2 separate regions of the Homo sapiens genome follow, and region 2 is linked to region 1. A link means that fine-mapping ties the variant in region 1 to the expression of a gene that starts in the linked region. Tissue or cell type: testis. Region 1 holds a variant in brackets; the other region holds the start of a gene. All regions are shown on one strand. Distances are between the middles of the regions.

What was found. PIP is the estimated chance that this variant, and not a neighbour inherited with it, causes the effect.
Region 2: LINC02841 starts here. The variant in region 1 is the best candidate, but not a certain one, in a credible set for the expression of LINC02841 in testis (GTEx, PIP 0.87).

Annotation. Positions count from the first base shown.
Region 1 is chr19:31,549,579-31,552,345 of GRCh38, forward strand. All of the region lies in intron 2 of LINC02841 (long intergenic non-protein coding RNA 2841), which reads left to right. Among named protein-coding and RNA genes, the nearest start is that of LINC02841, 31 kb to the left of the region's middle. The variant T/C (reference allele first, on the strand shown) is at 1,647.
Region 2 is chr19:31,518,845-31,521,611 of GRCh38, forward strand. LINC02841 (long intergenic non-protein coding RNA 2841) reads left to right here and starts at 1,343. Exons shown (of 3, transcript NR_184026.1): 1 at 1,343-1,480.

The sequences.
Region 1 (2,767 bases):
TCCCCAGCATTTACCACTCTCCTGGGCACTTTTGCCATTCACCAAGAATCATGAGAACTGGGTCAACATCCTCCTCTACCACCAAATATTGTCATTATGAAGGGTGAACTCAGCTTTAACAAGGATGATCTGTAGCCCATCACTGTTGTGTTACAGATGACTGATCCACTTGCCCATCTCAGTGACCTCACCCTACTTTAGCCAGCCAGCCAGGTGCTGGACCATCTCCGCCCCTAGGTGCACCATACCTTCTCCCCAAAACTACAACTCTCTCAAATCTTAAATGCTAGAACCATCTCATTCTCAGGTCCAATGTCTTATCCTAGCTCTCTTAAAGATTTCCTCATTTTTGTACATTTACTTCTATTTTTCTGAGACTTCTGGGTCTTGGATGCTGATATCATTTGTATTCCCACCCAAATTTTGACCTGTCATCCCAAGATGTCAAGGGAGGGACCTGGAGGGAGGTAATTGGATCATGTGGGAGGTTTCTCCCATGCTGTTCTCATGATAGTGAGGGAGCTCTCACAAGATCGGATGGTTTTATAGGGGGCTCTTCCCCCTTCACTTGCTTGCTGTCTCTCTTGTTGCTTTGTGAAGAAGGTGCCTTGCTTCCCCTTCACCTTCTGCCCTGATTGTAAGTTTCCTGAAGCCTCCTCAGCCATATGGAACTGTGAGTCGATTAAGCCTCTTGTATTAGTCTGTTCTCACGCTGCTATAAGGACATACCTGAGACTGGGAAATTTATAAAGGAAAGAGGTTTAATTGACTCACAGTTCTGCAGGGCTTGGGGGGCCTCAGGAAACTTACAATAATGGCAGAAGGGGAAGCAAACATATCCTTCCTCACATGGTGGCAGCAAGGAGAAGTGCAGAGTGAAGAGAGTGAAGATGGTTATAAAACCATCAGATCTCATGAGAACTCACCCACTATCACAAGAACAGCATGGAGGTAACTGCCCCCATGATTCAATTACCTCCCATTGGATCCCTCTCATGACACGTGGGGATTATGGGAACTACAGTTCAAGATGAGATTTGGGTAGAAACACAGCCAAACCCTATCACCTCTTCCCTTTATAAATTACTCAGTCTTAGGTATTTCTTTATAGCAGTGTGAAAACGAACTAATACAGATGCCTTCTGAGCATCTTCTGAGATTCTGAATAGAATCTTCTGAGCATTCTATTTTCCTTCTGAGCAGTGCTTTCTCCCTTTGTTTCTCCATCTCATCTCCATGGTCTTTTGTTTCAACCATTCTCATGCCACTGAGTCTCCTCTATGACACTCCTCCTTTGCTTGTTTATGCCTCACCCAGGCAAATTCTTATTCTTGAAGCAATCTCTTCATTCCCCACCTCTATTTTCACTCTGAGTTGGCAAGGACCACTGGAGAAACATCACGCAAACTTTGCAAAGCTTGCAAACTGGAGGCACCACAAACACAAGTTCTTTAGGTGCTGATGAGTCTTCTGCACTGATGAGCACTCCTGCAAGGTTTCTCTCCAGGGCAGTAAATCCTCTGAGTGGTTATTCCAAAACTCCTTAATGGTTTTCCAGTCCCTTACTGCCACCTCCCTCCCTCACCCTTCTCCTTCTCTCCCCTCTTGGTGGGAAGTCTGTCCCCATGTTGGAAGTAGTTCTCCTA[T/C]CCCCACCTCCCTCCCTCATCCTCCTCCTTCTCTCCCCTCTCACAGCAGAAAGCCCATACCCTAGTGTTGGAGATAGGGCCTCTCAATTTCCCTCTGCTCCAGTCTTCCCATTCCTGCCCCCTGAGCACCATGGCTGGGTGGATTTATTCCTTCATACACACACACACACACACACACACACACACACACACACACACACTACCCAGGCTGGAGTGCAGTGGCGCGATCTCAGCTCACTGCTAAGTCTACCTCCTGGGTTCAAGCCATTGTCCTGCCTCAGCCTCCCAAGTAGCTGGGATTACAGGAATGCACCACCGCACCCAGTTGATTTTTGTGTTTTTAGTAGAAACGAAGTTTCACCATGTTGCCCAGGCTGGTCTTGAACTCCCATCCTCAGATGATCCACCCGTCTGGGCCTCCCAAAGTGCTGGGATTACAAGTGTGAACCACTATGCCCAGATCTCTTCTAGATTTTATCATCTCCCACTCTTTATCTCTCTTTGCTTATTCCTTCCAACAATTAAGCATACTTAAACATCATCCACATTTATGAAGAAAGATATCTCCTACAGCCCTAAGGACCTTTTTGTCCTCACAACCAGTAAGTTTCTAAAGAGTTATCATCTCTTGCTGGACCCACTTCTCATAGCTCTATTCCCTCTTTAACATACTACTGTTTGACTTTGGAGCCCTCCATCTCTCACCAAGATTGCTTAAATGCTTGCAGACAGATAACACTTTTCAATTTTCAGCTAACGTGTTTTATTTTTCCGCAAGCATGAGGGCATAACTACCTCTTGAAAATTTGACTTACGAGACACCACAGCCTCCCTGGGTTCTTTCTTTGCTGCCTTTCTGGCCATTCCTTTTTGGGCTCCTTCGGAGACTTCTCATGATCTCCTCTCTCTCTCTCTCTTTCTCTCTCTCTCTCTCTCTCTCTCCATACAATATGTCATTTCCTTGGGGTTTTATTGTATTTTTTCTCTTTACCCTACGTACTCTGTAGGCAAGCTTGGCCTCTCCTTTTGGGCTTCAAATATGACTTTAAGCCTAAACTTTCTGGGCATCTACTCTTGGATATCTCATGAGTATCTCCAAAGCGAACCTGCCGTCTCTCTCC
Region 2 (2,767 bases), 31 kb before region 1:
GATACAGCTTGCTAAGTGGCAGTGGCCTTTTATTCTCTGACATCTTTCCAGACCCTTGAAGGGATTAGAACTGGATTAGTTTGAGATGAGCCTGGCTCTGCCGTTATCACCTGTTTATAGGATAATGACATTATCTAGTTTGGCCCGTAAGGGCCTCCATACGTAGGAGCTTCGTTCTCTTTGATCTGGAGGGTCGCAGACAACATATCTTTAAATCTAAACAAACTCACTGAAGCCCAAGATAAGTGTTCAAAATACCCAGTGAGAAGAAAGGAGCCTCTCTTTTCCCTTCCTGCCCAATGCAAAGAGCAATTTTAAAATTGTGTGCACTCACACGATTTTAAAACCTAAAACTCATCCTGCCACTTTGGACCCTAGCTTCCTTGCGTCTCCTTTCACGTGTGCACAGAATTCTGAAGTTTGTAGAGCTTTTTCAACCCATCTCAACTTATATGGTGAGCACAGCCGTCTGAGCAGAGCAGGGTGAGCTCAATACACATGATACAGGCTGGGACACAAAACACAAGGCTCAGGGAAGACAAGGAGTTTGGCAACCCTCATGTCTTTTTTAAGAGAGGAGCTGTGGTTAAACCCAGCTCATCTGGAAAAACCCAGCACTCATTTCACTGCCTGAAGCCATCTATGAACCGACCTCTCTGCCCAGACAGCTTTCTTTAAAGAGGATCCTCATTACCCTTCACAGAAAACATCTGTTTAGACAGATGTTCCAGGAGGTCCTTGGCCCAAGTCCACTTTCTTGTCCCAAGGCTTCCCTAACGTCCATCATCCCTGTTTAAAAATTATTTTTATTGAAGTATAATTTACATGCAATATAGGCAATCTGCTTTAAGTGTACTGACCTTTTGTTAAGTTTTGGAAAATGTGTACCTTTGTGGAAATGATGCAGGACAGGAAAGACCCAAAACTAGGGCTTAGCCTGGGAAGTTTCTTGGTTTTGCCCAGGAAAGAATTCAAGGGGGAGCCGGTGGTATTAGACAGCAGCTTCTATTGAAAAGGCCATGCACAGCAGCAGAGGGACTGCTCCTTGCAAAGCAGGGCCACCCTACAGACTGTGTGCCTGGACATGCAGCTCAGAGGCACCTCTGCAGACATATTTATACCCACTTTTAATTACATGCAAATTAAGTGGCAGATTATGCAGAAATTTCTAGGAAAAGGGTGGCAACTTCCAGGTCACTGGGTCATTGCCATGGAAAGGGGCAGGGTGTTGCCATGGAGTGTGGCCATGGCAATGGCAAACTGACATGGCACAATGGTAGGCATGTCTCAAGGAAAGCTGCTTCCACTCCACCCCTGTTTCAGCTATTTCTCAATTTGGTCCAGTGTTCAAGCCCAACCTTTGGAGTCGAGTCCCACCTCCTACCTCAGAACCACCACCATAATCAGGATTTAGAATGCATCACCCCAAAATGTTTCTTCATGTCCCTGGCCCCTTGCTTTCAATCTCCTACAGCTCCTAGTGAGTATTGATAGTTCAGTCACTATAGTTTTTCTTTTTCTAGAAATTCGCCTAAGTGGAATTATATAATATGTACCAGCTTCTTTCTTATATCTGGCTTCTTTTACTTGGCATGCTGTTTTTGAGAGTTAGGCATTTTGTTGTGTGTTTGATTAGTTTGATTTTTGTAGTGTGTTTGATTTGCTGTGTGTTTTTCTTTATATTGCAGAGTAGTATTCCACCGTATGTATATACCATAAAATGATTTATCGATGCTCCAGTTTTAGACATGCAAGTAGTTTCCAGCTTAAGGCCATTCTGAATAACGCTGCTATGGACATTTAGGTACAAGTTTTTGTGTTAATATGTTCTCACTTATCTTGGACAAATATCTAGGAGTGAGATTTTGGCCCATATGATAAATAGATATTTACATTATAAGAAACTTTCTATTTTTTAAAGTGGCTGTATTCCTGCCAGTAATGTTTAACATTCCAATTGCTCCACATCCTCACCAACACTTGGTATTGTCAGTCTTTCTAATTTTACCATTCTTGTGTATGTACAGTAGTGTCTTGTTGTGGTAGTATTTGCATTTCCTTAGAAACTAATGATGTTGAGCATTTGTTCATGTCCTTAATTGACATTCATAATATTTTCTTTGGTGAAAGGCCAGTTCAAATCTTTTGCCCATTTAGATTGATTATCTTCTTATATTTGAGTTGTGCCAGTTCCTTATATATTCTGGGTGTATCTCCTTTTTCAGATATTTCTAGCAAATATATTCTCATAGTTTGTGGCTTTTCATTTTCTTAGACATGTCTTTCAAAGACTAAAAGTTCTAATTTTGATAAGTCATTTATTCATTTTTTCTTTTATGGTTTGTGTTTTTTGTGTCTTATGTAAGCAATTTTTACTTAGGCCAAGATCACAGGGTTTTCTTTTCTATTTTCCTCTAGAAGTGTTAATTTTTATGTATAATGTGAGCTAAGAAATGAGGTTTATATTTTCCATGTGCATATATTGTTATTTCAGCATGTTACACCTCTCAATGTATATAAGTCTTTTCTATTTTATCTCAGTAATAATTTGTAGTTTTCAGAATATGCCTCTCACATTGTTTATTTTATTCCTATTAATATTTTTCATACTATTATAAAAGGTATTTTAAAACTTTGCTTTATAAAAATTTGTTGTACATTTTTATTTTTATTCCTTTTTTAATTTTTAATTTTGTGGGTACATAATAGGTGTGTTTATTTATGGAGTACATGAGATATTTTGATATAGGCATGCAGTTTGTAATAA